Regions from separate parts of the Homo sapiens genome. Here all the other regions are linked to region 3. Evidence: fine-mapped expression QTL. A gene starts in region 3. Each other region holds a variant in brackets. All regions are shown on one strand. Distances are between the middles of the regions.

The links.
Region 1: its variant is fine-mapped to the expression of ZGRF1 in tibial nerve (GTEx, PIP above 0.99). The same link has a PIP of 0.9 or more in esophagus muscle, gastroesophageal junction, sun-exposed skin and whole blood.
Region 2: its variant is fine-mapped to the expression of ZGRF1 in testis (GTEx, PIP 0.94).
Region 4: its variant is fine-mapped to the expression of ZGRF1 in prefrontal cortex (CommonMind, PIP 0.95).

What each region holds. Positions count from the first base shown.
Region 1 is chr4:112,559,224-112,564,236 of GRCh38, forward strand. It overlaps ZGRF1 (zinc finger GRF-type containing 1), which reads right to left. Exons shown (of 28, transcript NM_018392.5): 17 at 3,908-4,051; 18 at 3,148-3,262; 19 at 1,510-1,772. Among named protein-coding and RNA genes, the nearest start is that of NEUROG2, 46 kb to the left of the region's middle. The variant ATAGT/A (reference allele first, on the strand shown) is at 2,049.
Region 2 is chr4:112,595,111-112,600,123 of GRCh38, forward strand. The region is part of intron 10 of ZGRF1 (zinc finger GRF-type containing 1); the gene reads right to left. Among named protein-coding and RNA genes, the nearest start is that of ZGRF1, 39 kb to the right of the region's middle. The variant T/TG (reference allele first, on the strand shown) is at 2,983.
Region 3 is chr4:112,634,180-112,639,192 of GRCh38, forward strand. It overlaps ZGRF1 (zinc finger GRF-type containing 1), which reads right to left and starts at 2,730. Exons shown (of 28, transcript NM_018392.5): 1 at 2,672-2,730. LARP7 (La ribonucleoprotein 7, transcriptional regulator) reads left to right here and starts at 2,964. Exons shown (of 13, transcript NM_016648.4): 1 at 2,964-3,060. RefSeq lists enhancers at 2,527-2,746, 3,317-3,366, 3,407-3,516.
Region 4 is chr4:112,579,605-112,584,617 of GRCh38, forward strand. It overlaps ZGRF1 (zinc finger GRF-type containing 1), which reads right to left. Exons shown (of 28, transcript NM_018392.5): 15 at 4,374-4,570; 16 at 2,059-2,198. Among named protein-coding and RNA genes, the nearest start is that of ZGRF1, 55 kb to the right of the region's middle. The variant CT/C (reference allele first, on the strand shown) is at 2,684.

The sequences.
Region 1 (5,013 bases), 75 kb before region 3:
GGTCTGGCTCTGTTGCCCAGGCTGGAGTGCAGTGGCGCAATCGTGACTCACTGCAACCTCTGCCTCCCAGGCTCAAGCCATCCTCCCACCACAACCTCCAAAGTAGCTGGGACTACAGGTGCATGCCTCCATGTCCAGCTAATTTTTAAATTTTTTTGTAGAGACAGCATTTTGCCATGTTGCCCAGGCTGACCTTGAACTCCTGAGCTTAAGCGAGCTACCCTCCCTGACCTCCCAAAGTGCTGGGATTACAGGTGTGAGGCCAAGCAATGGGTTTGACTTAATCAGATTGTGTTTTTAAAAAACAACTTGAATGAAAATATGAAGTAAGGCAAAACTAGTGGTAGATCAATTAGAAAGTTGTGTGAGATAATTACAACAATAAATGTTAACTTTACTAAGCACCTCCCATGTGCCAAGCACTGTTCTAAGCCCTTTATGTATGTTAACTCATTTAATCCTCCAACCCTATGAGGTGAATGCTATTATGATCTCCATTTTGCAGAGTAGGAAATTAAAGATTAAGAGATATATAACCTGCCCAAAATCATACAGCTAACAAATGATACAGTCAGAACGTAAATTCAGGATTCTAACTCTAGACCCCACACTCTTACCCACTAGGCTATATGGAGGTATGATGAAGGCTTGGATTGAGGGGATACAAGTAAACTGGAGAAGAGACACTCAATATGAAAGATGGATAGAAGCTAGAAGGAACACATCTCAGTGACTAATCTGATGGCGGGAGATGAATAGTGAGAGAATATGAGGAGGATTAAGAGAGAGTCACTTAATCTTGAGAGAAAGAAAAATCTACGATCACTCTCAGATTTGATTTGGTCAACAGGGTGGATATGACATAATTCCTCAAAATAGGACAGAAAAGTAGGATTAGCTTTGGGGTGGAGGTCTATGAGAGAAAATGTGCTACAGAGGCAACAGAGTCCAGATAGAACTATTTACTGTAAGCAGGAGGAAGTAAATCGCCTTCACTGTGACAGAACCAAGCGGTAAGAATAGCTCCAAAATTAGGTAAATTGGAGAAGGAAGGCAGGATATTGAAAGCAGTTTCTGTTATGACCTCCATTTCCTCTTTTAGAGGCAAGATCAAGAGAAAGGACAAGAATGAGGTTATGAGAAGAATTAAGGTTTGTAATCACTGATATAAAGGATAGAAGAGTGAGCTGACTAGGAATAAATAAAAGGTTTTGCTGATCAAGTTAAGTTTACTATAGGAGAGCAACATGTAAACATCTAGATCAATCTGGATACTTTGACCATAAGTTTATAATGCTACTCATTCATCAGATATGCTAATAAGTCTCCCTTTTAGGGTAGTCAGTTCTGTTCTCATCTAACAGTTTACCAAAGTGGGTACAGGTTTAAAAAGTCTACTTAGAGTTATTCTTGAACCTCATTTGACTAGGAAATTATAAAGGAGCAGACTGAGTTACAAAAGCTTACAAATAGAAAACAATTACAATTATTTTCTTTCTTGCTTCTTACCATGTATGATTGTGATAGGGAAGGTATGAGTTTGCAGTTCCTTCACTTCTTCAATGCTTTCATGTGATGCCATCATTTGAGCTATTTGAATTAGAGCTGTAGCTTGATCCTTGTTTAACTTGTGTACCTGAATCAACTCACTAGCTAACTTCAATGTTGCTCCTAGGCTGAGTAGTTCAAATTTTGTACTGACATTTGTGAAGGCTGGTGGGATAAATTTTCTCTTACTGACTCTTTTGTTACTAACTATAGTTGGCGAAGACCTAATAAAAATGAAGCAAATAAACAATTTTAAAAAAAGGGGCATTTGAAAAAGATGAGTAGAATAATTCATAACTTAGCCATCACTTTGTAAGCATTACAGAGAACAGTTTTTTATGGAAATAAACAGTAAGTGGATATATACTGTAAATGGATACATACTCCAATATCGAGGAGGGTAGAAGAGAACTGACGTTTGTTGAATACTTACTACATGCTGACACTTTGTTGAGCATTTTACATATTACTTGATGAAATCTTCACAACAACACTAGGAA[ATAGT/A]TAGTTAATTATCCCAAGTACAGATACAAGAATATTGAATTTTTTCCCCCAATACCACACCACAAATAAGTGGCGGACTGACTTTAAAACCCATGCTCTATTATACAAACCTAACTTAGATAATTAATCTAGCCCTCATTTCAGGTAAAACTACATCACATGAATTGGTCTTATTTCTATTTCCATGAAAATTCATTTCAAATTGGATAAATAACATAATGAAATCAAAGGATATTTATTTTTTTACCTAGGACTTCATTGTAGTGAGAAAAATAAAACATCACAGGTAGATAATAATATTCCAAATTGAAAACTGGATTTTCCTATCAATTTTAATGCATTTAATATAATATCACTTCCAATTTTTTAAAAAGGGACATGGTGCTTGAGAAATTCAAAATGAGATATGGCTATATCGAGAATAAAATCAGTAGCAATATACACACTGGATTCCAGCTGTAAAATGATTCCTTTAAATGTTAAATAATTTGTAATATAAAAATACAGATAATAAAAAATAAAATCAATACTGAAATGATCCTTAAATTATCTCTTGATGAAGTGAAAATGTACAGTAACATTTATTAGCTCAAACCTTAATAAACAGATGAAAAATAATGCATAATTCCTTTTCTCTTTTTTTTTTTTTTTTTTTTTGAGATAGAGTTTCACTTGTTGCCCAGGCTGGGGTGCAATGGCACCCGGCTCACCGCAACCTCCGCCTCCCAGGTTCAAGCAATTCTCCTGCCTCAGCCTCCCGAATAGCTGTGATTACAGGCATGCGCCAGTATGCCCAGCTAATTTTGTATTTTTAGTAGAGACAGGGTTTCTCCATGTTGGTCAGGCTGGTCTCGAACTCCCGACCTCTGGTGATCTGCCCACCTCGGCCTCCCAAAGTGCTGGGATTACAGGCATGAGCCACTGCACCCAGCCCCTTTTCTCTTTTTAACCACTGACAGAGAATAATGTCATAGTCTGAAAAATAATTACAATTTTATTGGCAACATTTATATACTGTACTTTTATTGAATTTTCATATTTACTTCTGATTACCATTTTTTAATACCAATGACTCAAAGGTAAAAAATGACTTACGTTGTTAACAGGTACTGTGTTAGAGGTAGAGTAGCTGGATTAAAGTAGTCCTGAATGTTTTTCAAAGTAGTCAGTTCTGTGCTAGCATTACAAACCAATAACGCATGGACAACCACTGTACAGAGGATGCAGAAAATAAACATTTGATGTAAATAAAATGGACCATAAAAACTCTGTGTTAAATGCCCACATAACTCAGAGTTCAGCTACTGAATTAAGCACATGACATAAAACAAACCCTTAAACACACACAGAGATCCCAAACTTATATTCATTAAATTACTATGCTATCTGCTCATTCATTTTATAATGGGTATGCATAAACTGCATAATTTAAATCATATTTGGACTTCCATATATCAGCAAATGAACAAGAACACCTGTTTTGAGTTAGTACCTAGTAGCACAACTTCACAGCCAGCAGTTTCCTTTAATCAACATATCACTTGTGCCACAGAGTAGTATTTGTATAATTTTTAAACACTTTCTTGCATTTTTTCCTCAATTACTTCACAGAAATATATGGAAAACAGAAAATCAGAATAATCTAATTAGAAAATTAGAACAAAACAATCCCCCACACACCATTCTTCCTCACAGAAATATCTATATATTCAACTTCATACACATTTTCAGGAACTCACTGTACACAACAGTCGAAACTAGAGTTGGGTCCTTTTTGTTGGCTTTAATCAAACAGTGCATCTTATGTCTATCATTCTTTTTAAATATAAACTAAAATGAGCATAGTAATACTCACTGTTAGTGGGCCAATTAGAAGGGAAATAGCCTTTCAAAGGCAGTATTTCTATCTCATTGATAGATGATGGTCCAAAGAAAGCACTACATGCGATAAAAGTATCCAGCTCAAAGTCTAGGGTTTTTGAAACCACCCAAAGATCATCTGAAAAGACAAACATTTTTAAATATTACACAGACATATACAGTATGGTTTTATATTTTTAGAAATTATATATATTTGCATATGTGTGTACATATATCTATAGTACACATATACATACACAAGATGAGAAGTAAAGTTCTGGAAAGATAATTCATCAACTATCAACCTAAAGGTTGGGAGTGCTCTGAACAAAAGAACCAGCATCAGATTCTGCAATTAATACAGTACCACTTGAATCACACAGAAAAAGACTAAAGAGATGGCAGAATTACAGGGTGAGGAAGAAGGAGGGCAGAGACATCACATGGGAAGATGAGTTTGCTACAATGGAAATCCCTAGGTTTTGCATAAACCCACAGAAGGCCTAAGAAGGCAGGACATGGGCTAGCCCATAAGACTATTTTATTAGTCCGTTCAGGCTGCCATAACAAAATATCTTAAATGAGTAATTTATTAAGATGATTAATATCTTAAATGAGAAATGTATTTCTCATAGCAGTTCTGGAAGCTAAAAAGCCCAAGATCAAGGTGCCAGCACAGCACCAGTGAATAACCAGTGAAGGCTCATTCTCACTTTGCAGATGGTGCAAAGGGGCCAAGGCACTCCCTTTAACCTCTCTTATAAGGCCACTAATCCCATGCAGGATTAAGTTATGCAGCGCCCACATGACTTAATCATTGCCCAAAGGCCCCAGCTCTTAATACACTGGCAATCAAATTTCAAAGTATGTATTTGGCAGTGGGAACGGACGGCAGGGAACACATTTAGACCACAGTAACCACTTAACAAGCTACAAAAAAAAGTAATATTGGACTCAGTTCAGGCTGAGAAAACCAACTGCCAGGGCATCAGCAATTGGAATAGTGCCAAAGATCAGATCAGTAAGGATATTAGCAGTTCTAGCAAGCTGAGAAATAATCACAAAATAGTAATATACTATTCCATTTTCACTAACAAGCTT
Region 2 (5,013 bases), 39 kb before region 3:
TTTACATTTTAATGTCTTTGAAATAGGGAAACACTTTAAAAGTGATGACATTTTTACATCTCTATAGCACAGGCAACAGTTGTGACATAGTTGTCATTGCCTGTACATGTGCAAATGTATGCAAATTAGTCATGCTGTTCATCTTAATAATCACTTAAATATGAATTGGTCTGTGCATTGCTAATATCAAACACGTTCTAAGTAATTTTGCTGTTTAAATGTCTTCAAAAGATTATACTATGATTTAGCCCTGAACAAAAAATTATTATGTTCAAAGAAAGGCAAGAGAACAAAGCAGTGTAATATACAATTAAAAACTGTGCCCAACACAGCATAGTGGCTCACGTCTATAAACCCTGCACTTTGGAAGGCGAAGGCAAAAGGATCGCTTGAGGATAGGAGACCAGCCTGGGCAACATAGTGAGAGCCAGTCTCTACAAAACATAAATATATATGTTTGTGTGTATATATGTGTGTGTGTGTGTGTATTTATATATATATCAAAATATATGTATGCCCAAATAAGCTTAAAAGCATTCTTTCAATAAATATAACATTAGAAGTCTAAGTGAAGATTAAAAAATTCTGGAGATCCATTTCAAAACAACGTAAGTATACTTAACACTACTGAACTGGTTGAAATAGTAAATTTTATGATATATGGTTTTCACCACAATAAATATTTTATAATGTTTTTAAAGTCTAGGATAAAAAACATTGTGTAATGTCTAAATGACTACTCTTCTTTCTTAGTGCTGTATAACAAACTGGTGCTTTTTACAGTAGTAGTATCTCAGAATTTGATAAAAATACAGAATTTCTTGTAAGTCCAGAGATTGCTACATGCAAGCAATGTCACGCTTATTCAAAAAAGCACTTATCTGTTTGTAGATCTAATCATTTTGTTTTAGAACATTTTTGTAAACTCAGAATATAAAGCATATAATCATAACTGATGTAGATAACAATAACTAGAAATAAAAATAATGGACATAAGTTTCTTTTTCAATATGGAATACCTCTAAATTTTGTTCTCCTCTCAAAATATACAGAGGATGAGAAACAGAAACTCCATCTTTGATGAAACTAAGAAGCAATGGCAATCCTGAATTACAATACAATATTAAGAAGATGGGGAATAGTATAGACTTGGCAATATCAAGAAAATCTAACCAAAGCACCTAGTAAAGGAAAGCCCAATAAGAAGTAAACTGATTTGCCCCAATAACCATGGAAGGGCTCAGAAACTGAAGGCCACAGGTGTTGCTGAAAGTAGGATACAATGGACTAAAATATTTGATAGAAGATTCGAGAAAGAAAATCTAGAAAACACTGGGGGGAAAAGCAACAAAGAAATATATTTTTTAAAAAGTTTCATAAGACAAGTAGATTTGTATTTACAGGATGAAAAGACCCACTGAGTACAGTGTATTAATGAAACCTGAAGGAAAGCACATGACAGCGAAATTTCAGAATATCAGGATTTTTTTTTTTGTTGTTGGAAACTGGGTCTCACTCTGTTGCCCAAGCTGGAGGGCACTGGCACAATCTCAGCTCATTGCAACCTCTACCTCCCAGGCTCAAGGGATTCTCCTGCCTTAGCCTCCCAAGTAGCTGGGATTACAGGCACATGCCACCACGCCTGGCTAATTTTTAATTTTGTGTAGAGACAGGGTTTTGCCCCGTTGCCCAGGATGGTCTCGAACTCCTGAGCTCAGGTGATCTGCCCACCTCGACCTCCCCAAGTGCTGGGATTATCTAGCACTTTGGGAGGCCACTGTGCATGGCCAGGAATTTTTTTAAAGTCATTAAAAGTTTCTGTGCCGGGCACAGCAGTTCATGCCTGTAATCCTAGCACTTTGGGAGGCTGAGACAGGCGGATCACTTAAGGTCAGAAGTTTGAGGCCATTCTGGTCAACATAGTGAAACCCTGTCTCCATTAAAAATACAAAAATTAGCCAGGTGTGGTGGTGCACGCCTGTAGTCCCAGCTTCTTGGGAGGCTGAGGCAGAATAATCACTTGAACCCAAGAGGCGGAGGTTGCAGTGAGCCGAGATCACACCACTGCACTCCAGCCTGGGTGACAGAGCCAAACTCCATCTAAAAAAAAAAAAAAAAAAAATTCTAGAGGGAGGGTCAGGCACTGTGCTCACACCTATAATCCCAGCACTTTGGGAGGCTGAGGCAGCAGGAACACTTGAGGGCAGGAGTTTGAGACCCAGAAAACATAGGAAGACCCCATCTCTAGAAAAAGTTTTTAAAAATTAGCCAGGTGTGGTGGTGTGCATCTGTAATCCCAGCTACCCAGGAGGCTGAGGCAGGAGGTTGGCTTGGGCCCAGGAGTTTGAGGCTACAGTGAGTTATAATTGTGCCACTGCACTCCAGCCTAAGGAAGAGAGTGAGACCTTGTCTCTAATAATAATAATAATAGTAATAGTAATAATAATTCTAGAGAGAGAAGGCACTGCTAAATTTAAATTACAAAGAAGTGGGCACAGTGGTTCACTCCTGTAATCCCAGCACTTTTGGAGGCTGAGGTGAGTGGATCATTTGAGGTCAGGAGTTCAAGACCAGCCTGGCCAAGATGGAGAAACCCTGTCTCTACTAAAAATACCAAAAAAAAATTAGCTGGACGTGGTGGTGCGTGCCTGTGGCCCCAGCTACTCGGGAGGCTGAGGCAGGAGAATCGCTTAAGCCTGGGAGACAGAGGTTGCAGTGAGCCGAGATCGTGCCACTTCACTCCGGCCTGGGTGACAGAGCCAGACTGTCTCAAAATGTACCCACACACACACACACTGAAAAAAAAAAAAAAAAGAATAAAGCAGATCATATCCAAATTCTACACTAAGTCAAACTATCAATCAAGTATGAAAGCAAAAAAAACCATTTTCAACATGCAAAGTCTCCCAAATTTTATCTCCCCTTGCTCCCTTTCTTTGGAGGTATTCAAAGATGTACTCCAGCATAACAAGAAAGGAGACA[T/TG]GGTGTTCAAGATGTAAGCAACTCATGCTAGGAAGGCAGCAATGGGCATTCTTAAGTTGTCAATTATACAGTGCATACTGAAGCAGGCAGATGAAAAACCTGGAAAAGATGCCATAGGAAAATAATGGAACTGACACAGATTATATGAAAAGTATGTGTGAATTCCTGTATTAAGGAGTATTTTATACAGCTTTTTGAGGGTATGGAAAAACTTTGCCCCAGTATTCAAAAAACACTAAGCAAATTTTAAAAAGAGACAATTATAAACCGGAAAAACCCAAAGTTATAAAGGGAAGAAAATGTAATCATAGTATACCAATTGGCTCAGCAGTGAAAATATTAAAACATTTATAATAACGAAAACATTGAATATATATTTATCTTAAAGTTATAATATAACTTAATATTATAGGTGCCTGGAAGAATATAAAGGAGGGATTCAGAAACAACTAATTTTACTGTAGCCACTGTAATCATTAGCTCTTGCTAAAGACAGTGCAAAATCACAATAGTTATTAAAAGCATCAAGGTGCTTTTATTAATTAATAATAAAATAATGTTTTTATTAATTAAAAACATTAAGTGAAAAAGAGTTCTGAGCTCCAGAAATCACAAAAAACACTGACAAATCTTATTACATAAATTAAAACATTTAATTTTAGAAAAATCATAATCAGGCCAGTCACGGTGTCAGATGCCTAGAATCCCAACACTTTGGGGGGTCAAGGCAGGTGTATCGGTTGAGCCCAGGAGTTCAAGACCAGCCTGGGCAACATGGTAAAACCCTATCTCTATAAAAAATTTAAAAATTAGCGAGGTTTGGTGGTGTGTACCTGTAGTCCCAGCTACTCAGGAGGCTAAGGTGGGGGAATCACTTGAGCCTGGGAGACAGAGGTTGCAGTGAGCCAATATCATGCCACTGCACTCCAGCTTGGGCAACAGAGTGAGGCTCCTTCTCAAAAACAAAAAAATCAGAGTCAAAGCACTAATGTAGTGGAAAAAAATGACAAAGGGTTAATTTTCTTAGTATGTAAAGAGCGAAGAGCTCCTACAAATCAAATATACAAATAATATATAGAGAACCTCTATACCAAAACTGTAAAACATTACTGGAAGATATTGCAGCAGATTGAAATAGAGGGAAATATTTTTATAATATTGAAAATTTATCAATAACATATTATAAAAATGTTAATTCTGCCCAAAATTGACATGCACAATGGAATTTCATCCAAATTCCCAGCTTGTATGTGTGAAAACCATTAAGCTAGTTCTAAACATATATGCAAATGTAAAAAAATGAGAAGAATGAGGTGGGAAGATTTAAAGATACATAGGAAGTACATAGGCCAGCCACTGTGGCTCACGCCTACAGTCCCAGCACTTTGGAAGACCAAGGTGAGAGGACTGCTTGAGTCAGGAGTTTGAGACCAGCCTGGCAATATAGCAAGACCCTGTGTCTAAAAAAAAAAAAAAAAAATTAGCCAGGCATGGTGGTGTGTGCCTACAGTCTCAGCTACTTGGGAGGCTGTGGAGGGAGGATCACTTGAGCCCAGGAGTTTGAAGCTGCAATGAGCCTGTATAATGCCACTGCACTTCAGCCTGGGTGACACAGTGAGATTCTGTTTAAAAAAAAAGGAAGAAAGAAAGAAAACACATGCTTTGTGACTTCTGAAATTGCAGACCAATAAATCAGAAGAGAAACTAATAAGAGACCCTTAATATATGGACCCTTGATTCATGGCAAAGGAATGAAGAAAAGATAGCTTTTTCAATAAATGGTGCTGGGTCAACTGAATATTCATATGGAGAAAACATGTAACTTTACATAAAATGTACTCAATACATAAAAATCAATTACAGGTAAACTGTAGATCAAAATGTGAAATGTAAATTAATAAAGCTTGTACAAGATAATATGAGAGAATATCTTCATGATCTTGAGGTAATGTTTTTTTTTCTTTGATACAGGATCTCACTCTGTCACCCAGTGTGGTGGCATGATCATGGCTCAAGGCAGCCTCAATCTCC
Region 3 (5,013 bases):
CTATCCTCCATCTGAAGGAATTTCAGTATGGCGGGGTGATAAACAGTAATTTTAATAAAATAAGGCAGGAATAAGCACAGCAGGGGCACCCAGCTTGGTGTGGATCATCAAACAAGGCTTCTTCAAGGAAGTAAAGTCTAAGCTGTAAGCTGAAATAACCCTTAGTCAAGGGAAGGCCAGTGAAGGTCTTCCCAAACAAGAATTGCAGGCCTGTGATCCCAGCACTTTGGGAGGCCGAGACAGGTGGATCACCTGAGGTCAGGAGTTCGAGACCAGCCTGGCCAACATGGTGAAACCCCTGTCTCTACTAAAAATACAAAAATTAGCCAGGTGTGGTGGTGCGTGCCTATAATCCCAGCTACTTGGGAGGCTGAGGCAGGAGAATCACTTGAACCCAGGAGGCAGAGGCTGCAGTGAGCCGAGATCACGCCACTGCACTCCAGCCTGGGCGACAAGAGCAAAACTGTCTCAAAAAAAAAAAATAAAAGGGCGAGGCGGGGGCGGTGAAGTGCAAGAAAGTGACTGGCATCTTCCCTTGACTAATCAAGGTGATCTGGAGAAAGAATAGGTAAGGGGTATGCAAATGAGATATGCATACTTGCTTCGTGACACAGGTCACAGGACAGAAACCAAACCTACAGAAGGACTGCCTTTCAGAAATATAACTCCTGGCCGGGTGTGGTGACTCACGCCTGTAATCCCAGCACTCTGGGAGGCCATGGCGGGTGGATCATGAGGTCAGGCGCTCGAGACCAGCCTGACCAACATGGTGAAACCCCGTCTCTACTAAAAATACAAAAATTAGCTGGGCATGGTGGCACAGGCCTGTAGTCCCAGCTACTCAGGAGGCTGAGGCAGGAGAATTGCTTGAACCCGGGAGGCGGAGGTTGCAGTGAGCAGAGATCACGCCACTGCACTCCAGCCTGGGCGACAGAGCGAGACTCCATCTCAAAAAAAAAAAAAAAAAAGAAATACAACTTCCACATCCTATCTCCCTCCCCTCCGGCGTACATAAATTGCTGATGCCTAAGAATGCCAAGAAGATAAAAGAGAGATCGAGAAAAACACTCCTGGGCTAGATATGCTGTATACATAGATGAGAATACATGGTACAGACACAGTGCTGGGCATGTGGCAATTATTAATATCAGATCTGTTTAATAGCTACCATTTATTCAGTGCTACCATATGCTAGAAACTGTTAAATGCTTTATTTGGAGGTTTTGTTTCTGTTGGCTTTTTAACTTTTCTTTTTCTTTTACAGAGACAGGGTCTCACTCTGTCACCTAGGCTGGAGTGCAGTGTTGCAATCATAGCTCGCTGTGGCCTCAAACTCCTGGGCTCAAGCAATCCTTCCAGCCTCCCAAAGTGCTATATTATAAACATTATATACATTATATTGTTAATTATATACATTATAATTATTATGTAATTATATAATATATAACTATATTACTGTATTATGTAATATACAATTATATGATTATCGTGTGTAATTATATATATTTATTGATTACATACTATGTATCAGGCAGGAATTGGACGAGATACTTTACATACAGTATTTATCAGTCTCATAATCCTGAAGAATAAGCATTATTACAATTTACAGATTAGGAACCCAGTATTTACTAGTTTAGGATAACTTATATGCTATTTCACAATTGCAAGATAAATTCTCCATTATTTTCCTAAATTGAGATATTACTTCTGGAATGTACAGTTTAAAAAGAACTAAGAAGACTGAAACTCTTAAAGGATGGTTAAATTCGATTATAGGAGAAAACCTAAAAAAAAAAAGCTAACTGGATCTTTTAAAATTTAGAAGAGCTCTAATACTTATTCATTGAAAGTCAACACCCTTTCTTATCTTAGTATTAATCAGAAAAAATTATTTTAGACAACAGCATCATATATATTTAAGTGAGATGCAAAGAGTTTTTTCCAAGTGTTCATCTGTCCACGTCTACCAGACAATTCACCTGTTGACCGACTTCTAATAGGTGAAAGATTAATCTCCAAATAAGTTTTTAAAGACCCCAGATGCTCTGTGATAATTATATACATACATACATACACACAGATATACGTACATACACACATATACATACATATACATTGTGCTACTATATGTACGGACGCAATATATATACATAAAACTCGGTGTTCTCAGTAAAGTATGAGCCATTATTCATTTAAATACTAGATATTTTTCCTTTTTTTTTAAACAAGGAGTATTTTTTGAACCTAAACCTGAACCTCTAAATAGTTCGGATAACAAAGTTTTGGAATCATGAACTCAACATTGTTAACAAACCATCCAGTCCAAATAAACAAAGGAAACCCACATCTCATTTGCCAAGATTCTAAGAACCATAATCCTGTCACCAAATGACAATGGAGACTTGATCCTTTCTCAGTCCTAAATACAAACAGCAAAGCCCTCTTTGGTCCTCATACCTACTCGAAATTGCAAAGCAAGGCCTGGGAAAAACGGTGAAGAGGCACCACTTACTACAAGCAGTCCGAGTAGCTGTGACTGCGACCACCCCAATCCTGGTTCCAAACAGCATCCTTCCCGGTTCTCTTCTTAAGGAGCAGAGTCTTTCGTCCCTTCGCCCCAAATCGCTCAAGTCATTCCTAGGAAATCCCGAGAAACACTTCACCTCACCTGTCAAATTGCACAAAATCCACTTTCGAATTTCTCCCGCGAAACAACGTGACGTCATTAACGCGGGACCTCACCAGATGAGGACCCAAAACTTGGCCCGCCCACCTCCGCCTAAGCCAAAAACCGCCGCTTTCAAATCGCCAATCAAATTCTTCCTTGGCTTCGAGTCTCTCAGCCGGCCGCGCTCTCCGATGCCCAGCCCTCCTGGAACCACCTCGCCTGTGACGTAGGTGGAGCGCGCACTGCCTCCGGGCCCGTCTTTCTCAATTGGGACCGGAAAACGTTGTCGCTCATCCTATGACGCGAAAGTAACCGAGACTATCAGGATCCGGAGACGGAAATGTCCGAAGGCCGCAGTACTTGACCCTGTATTTTGGGAGTCGAACGGAGTAAGTTACAAGCGGCCTATAGGGTCGCACAGCTTGGGCGAAGTCTAATTAACTCTCCGTCCTTTTTCTTGCGGTCCACTCTATCATCTATCGTCCTTCTTACCCCGCCCCCCCGTCCTGCACACCCATCAGTTCCTTGGCCTAGTTATCTATGCGCACGCGCAAAAGTCTTCGGCAGCACTTGTAGTTCCCGTTTTCAGACAGTAAGGGCGCATAGGGGCCCGGCGTGGGGAGGTTTGGGGCGCGCCCGGCCTATGACGGCGTCCTTGCGGAAGTACGGGTGCCGAGAGAAGCAGTAGTCAATAAAGAGAGTGCCGTATTTCGCAGATTGGAGCTGAGCTGTGGCTGCCAGAAGATAGCGAACGTGAGGATTTATATTCTAAAATTATCATCTTCTTTTGCAGGACTCTGCCATCGTCCTCAAAGAGTAAAAAATCCAGTTACGGAAGGGAACTAACACTTGCTAGATATGGTGTGCAGAGTGCGTTTGCAAAGAAACTTAAGAGAAAACAAATGATAGGACACAGGGTGGTGGAAGATCTCAAAGAGTAAGATGCCATTTAACCTGGGCCTTGAAAATTTAATAAGGAAATTTAGACGAGAAGATTCAGACAAAGCAGAACACACAGGCCACTACGTGTTGAGGGACTTGAGTTGTAAGCAGTGACCAGAACAATGATTCTTAACCTGTTGTGGCACACTTCTTTTGAAAACTTAATTATATGGATTAGCTTCTCAGGAAAACGTGCATGTACCTATTAAAACATTTTGCGAGGCTGGGCACGGTGGCTCACGCCTGTAATCCCAGCACTTTGGGAGGCCGACGCGGGAGGATCACTTGAGGTCAGGAGTTCGAGACCAGCCTGGCCAATATGGCAAAATCTCGTCTCTACTAAAAACACAAAAATTAGCGGGGAGTGGTGGTGCACACCTGTAGTCCCAGCTACTCAAGAGGCTTGGTTGGGAGAATCGCTTGAACTCGGGAAGCAGAGATTACAGTGAGCCGGGATCGCGCCACTGCACTGCAGCCTGGGCCACTGAGAGAGGCTGCGTCTCCAAACAAACATTTTTCATATAATTTCCTCAGGAGAAATTACGAAATACTTTTAAATAGCAAACACACACAAATGACTTGGTGTCTTGTCTGACTCACTCTTCCAAGTTATCTATGTCTTTCGTGGTCTTTGAACTATTTTTCAACCCTGTAACTCGCTACAGCAACATGGAAATTAGGTTTGTCCAGTAAAGATGCAATTAATTATTGTCCTGAGCAGTATTTATTAATATTCATTTCAACGTTCCTGATTGCCTGTGTACCTGCTTTTTAAATTCTCCTTTGAACTGGTTTTTAGCACTTAACTGGTTCCCTTATTTACAGTCAAGCACCACATACCGACAGACCGCATGTATGACAGTGGTCCCATAAGATTATAGGTGAGTAATAGGCAATAGTACCTAGGTTTGTGTGAATACATCATAGAATAACTACATACTCAATGATGTACTTACTCACCTGACTGTGCATTTCTCAGAATGTGTCCTTGTCGTTAAGCAACCCATGACTGTGCTTAAATCTTTACCGTGTATTCATTTTATATTTGTACAAGAGTCTTGATTTTACCTTATCTTTAAAATGTATCATTTACAATTTAATGGAGCCCACTAGAATTCTTGTCCAGCCAAAGTTGCATGGACTTCAGATTAAGAATTCCTGAGTCAGAACATAGAGTCCGTGGTGATAAATTGCGGGAAATTCTACCAAAAGGTAGACAATGTGGGATCAAACATACCTGGGACAACTTACTTAGCTAGCTTTGGCCAAGTCACTTAAACCTTTTTGAGTTTTTGTGTTAAGATGGAAGAAACTGCTACCTAGTGGGATTGTGAGGATTTACAAAAGTGTATATAAAGTTACTGGTATTGTTACCCAATAACTTTTATTCTTCATTTAAA
Region 4 (5,013 bases), 55 kb before region 3:
ATAAGCATTCTTATACACCAATAACAGACAAACAGAGAGCCAAATCATGAGTGAACTCCCATTCACAATTGCTTCAAAGAGAATAAAATACCTAGGAATCCAACTTACAAGGGACGTGAAGGACCTCTTCAAGGAGAACTACAAACCACTGCTCAATGAAATAAAAGAGGATACAAACAAATGGAAGAACATTCCAAGCTCATGGGTAGGAAGAATCAATATTGTGAAAACGGCCATACTGCCCAAGGTAATTTACAGATTCAATGCCATCCCCATCAAGCTACCAATGACTTTCTTCACAGAATTGGAAAAAACTACTTTGAAGTTCACATGGAACCAAAAAAGAGCCCACATTGCTAAGTCGATCCTAAGCCAAAAGAACAAAGCTGGAGGCATCACGCTACCTGACTTCAAACTATACTACAAACTATACTACAGTAACCAAAACAGCATGGTACTGGTACCAAAACAGAGATATAGACCAATGGAACAGAACAGAGCCCTCAGAAATAATGCCGCATACCTACAACTATCTGATCTTTGACAAACCTGACAAAAACAAGCAAATGGGAAAGGATTCCCTATTTAACAAATGTTGCTGGGAAAACTGGCTAGCCATATGTAGAAAGCTGAAACTGGATCCCTTCCTTACACCTTATACAAAAATTAATTCAAAATGGATTAAAGACTTAAATGTTAGACCTAAAACCATAAAAACCCTAGAAGAAAACCTAGGCAATACCATTCAGGACATAGGCATGGGCAAGGACTTCATGTCTAAAACACGAAAAGCAATGGCAACAAAAGACAAAATTGACAAATGGGATCTAATTAAACTAAAGAGCTTCTGCACAGCAAAAGAAACTACCATCAGAGTGAACAGGCAACCTACAGAATGGGAGAAAATTTTTGCAATCTACTCATCTGACAAAGGGCTAATATCTAGAATCTACAATGAACTCAAACAAATTTACAAGAAAAAAACAAACAACCCCATCAAAAAGTGGGCAAAGGATATGAAAAGACACTTCTCAAAAGAAGACATTTATGCAGCCAAAAGACACATGAAAAAATGCTCATCATCACTGGCCATCAGAGAACTGCAAATCAAAACCACAATGAGATACCATCTCACACCAGTAAGAATGGCGATCACTAAAAAGTCAGGAAACAACAGGTGCTGGAGAGGATGTGGAGAAATAGGAACACTTTTACACTGTTGGTGGGACTGTAAACTAGTTCAACCATTGTGGAAGTCAGTGTGGTGATTCCTCAGGGATCTAGAACTAGAAATACCATTTGACCCAGCCATCCCATTACTGGGTATATACCCAAAGGATTATAAAACATGCTGCTATAAAGACACATGCACATGTATGTTTATTGCAGCACTATTCACAATAGCAAAAACTTGGAACCAACCCAAATGTCCATCAGTGATAGACTGGATTAAGAAAATGTGGCACATATACACCACGGAGTACTATGCAGCCATAAAAAAGGATGAGTTCATGTCCTCTGTAGGGACATGGATGAAGCTGGAAACCATCATTCTCAGCAAACTATCGCAAGGACAAAAAACCAAACACCGCATGTTCTCACTCATAGGTGGGAACTGAACAATGAGAACACATGGACACAGGAAGGGGAACATCACACACTGGGGCCTGTTGTGGGGTGGGGGGAGGGGGGAGGGATAGCATTAGGAGATATACCTAATGTTAAATGATGAGTTAATGGGTGCAGCACACCAACATGGCACATGTATACACATGTAACAAACCTACACGTTGTGCACATGTACCCTAAAACTTAAAGTATAATAAAAATAAAAATAAAAATAAATAAAAAAATAAAAATAAAAAGCCCTAATATCTTAAAAATATGTTTTTTAGAAGTGGTCTAATTTATTATACAATTAGTTTATAATACATATTACTATTAAATTATACTTTTAAAATTTAATATAAAATTCTTTAATATAAACAATTTATACAGCTGTATGTAATGGAGATAATAAGGCTAGACTGAATCGCCAGTATGATCAGATCAACTTACTTTTGCTATAAGCTGAAGATCTTTCCTTCCGACTTAGCTTAAGATAAAGTTTGGTTTTTGGTTCATTATAAAACTCAGGATTTACAGTAGTAAACTTCTTTAGTTTGCCATACTGTTTTCTCTGAAAATCAAATCCTTTTCTGAAAAGGGAATAAAAAATAAAAATGAATTGTAATATTAAGATGCAAGTTTTTTGAAAATCTTTAAAATACAGTATGAAAAGAACCAGGGTTTCATATGTTTACCTAGTTTCATACATGTATACAAAATATAAATATACTGTATCAAAGTAAGAAAATAACAACTGTCACAGAACTGTCATCAGTTTTAGAAGAGACTGAGATAGAAAAGTATCTAAAAGATAGAACACCTCGTGTGCTTTTTAAAATTTTTAAATTTAATTTTGTTTATTGGTATATAATAGTTACACATATTTTGGGAGTACATGTGATATCCTGATACCTTTACACATTGTGTAATGATCAGATCAAATCAGGGAAACTGGGATATTCATCACTTCAAACACTGATCTTTTCTTTGTGTTGGGAACATTACAATTCTTCTCTTCTAGTTATTCTGATATATACAATAAATTATTGTTAACTATAATTTCCCTACTGTATTC[CT/C]TTTTTTTTTTTTTTTAACACTTTAACCAACCTCTCTTCATTTCCCACCCCCTTTTCTTCCCAGCCTCTGGTAACCATCATTCTATTCTCTTACTTCCATGAGATCTGCTTTTTTAGCTCCACACATGAGTAAGAACATGCAATATTTGTCTTTCTATATCTGGCTTTTTCCTTTTTTTTTGAGACAGAGTCTGGCTTTGTTGCCCAGGCTGGAAGTGCAGTGGCATGACCTTGGCTCACTGCAACCTCCACCTCCTTGGGCTCAAGCCATCCTCCCGTCTCAGCCTCCCAAGTAGCTGGGACTACAGGTGCAGGCCACCACACCTGGCTAATTTTTGTAGAGACGAGGTTTCATGAGACGACGTTTCATCATGTTGCCCAGGCTGGTCTGGTACTCCTGTGTTCAAGTGATTCACCCACCTTAGCCTCCCAAAGTTCTGGGATTACAGGCGTGAGATCATGCCTGGCCTTTGGTTTATTTCACTTAACATAATGACCTCCAGTTGCTGCAAATGACAAGATTTCATTCTTTTTTATGGCTGAGTAAGATCCCATTGTGTGTGTGTGTTTACATACCACATTTTCTTTATCCATTCATCCATTGATGGACACTTAGGTTGATTCCATATCTTGGCTATTGTGAATACTGCTGAAATAAACATGAAAGTGCAGGTATCTCTTTGATATACTTATTTCCTTTCTTTTGGATACATACCCAAGAATGGGATTGCTGGATCATATGATAGTTCTATTTTTATTTTTTTGCGGAACCTCATTTTCTAAACTATAAAACGGGAATAACTTATTCCGATATCTCCATCTTACGGGCTATTATAATAATTGCATAAAATAATTCATGCGAAGTGCCTAGTTAGAAGAGGGCCTGGCATATATCAGCTCCGAATAAAAATCTTACTACTAAATCACCATGCAAATAGTCATTATATTTATTTTGAATAATCTAAACTTTTATAAGACATACTTCCAAAAAGTAGCATTCTATTACCCTATAAGCTATGTAGTTCAGACATGCAAATGATCACTTATTTATTATGCCACACTGCTAAAAATTATTCCTATAGTTTGTCGGATAGGGTTTCCCTTAGGATTGTGGAAAATAGCCCCGACTATATACAAAATAAGTTAGAAAAATAGCACCCTGCTAGTTATCCTGATATTGCTGACATTGTTTGATGTTTAGAGGGAGCCGAAATAACTTTAAAGACTTATTCCCTGGCCGAGCATGATAGCTCACACCTCTAATTCCAGCACTTTGGGAGGGTGAGATGGGAGGATCATTTGAGTCCAGGAGTTTGAAACTAGCCTGGGCAACATAGCAAGACCCCAACTCTACAAAAATTTCAAATTAGCTGGGCATGGTGGCATGTGCCTGAAGTCCTAGCTACTCAGGAGGCTGAGGTGGGTGGAGAGCTTCAGCCCAGGAGTTGAAGGTTGCAGTGAGCTAAGGATCACACCACTGCACTCCAGCCTGGGCAACAGAGCAAGAGCTTGTAACTATATAATTAAAAAAAAAAAGACTTATTCCCATTTTGCAGGTTTAGAAACTGAGGTATTCCATCTTTTAAATAGTTTTCCTATCTTAATCTCTTTTAAAACTGATGATAGTTCTGTGAAGGCTGTTGTTCTCTTATATAATCACAGGCAATTATTTGGTACTATAAAACATACCTCACCAAAAGCTGGCATTCCTCATAAAGTGGTATCTTTTGACTTCTTAAATATAAGCCAATACTCTTAATATCACTTAAAACCATGCCAGGTCGAGCTCCTTCCTGTGTTGAATATCCTGGAGTCACGTCCTCAAGCCATTTAAAGAATTTACATCGATCAGCTTTGGGTCCATCACATGTATAAAAGAGACGACCCTAAGGGGAAAGAAAAAAGATCAACATTTAGTGAAAAAAATGCTTTTATTTTTCGATTATTTTTGTGTTTGTCAAGGCTTCTATGAAGACTGCTTGGCATTACTGTACTCCAGTAAATTAGTCACTATATGACTTAACTTTATCATTAATTTAAAATTTAAAACCACCTACTTTTCCATTTACTTTCTCTTTATCAAAAGATTACATTATTCTGAGAATAAAAGCTTATTTGAAAATTTGTTTTTCTGATTTAAAATGTTCACTATAAACAACCTGAAAACTGTCCAGAAACACTGAATATCTTATCCATTTATTTCTATCCTTTTTTCTCATTCGCGTAAGTACACACACACCACAACCCAAAAAGAACAAACACATGTAAATTTTTTTTACACAAAACTCAGATGATACATTTTCTACTCTGTAACCTAGCCCTTGTACCC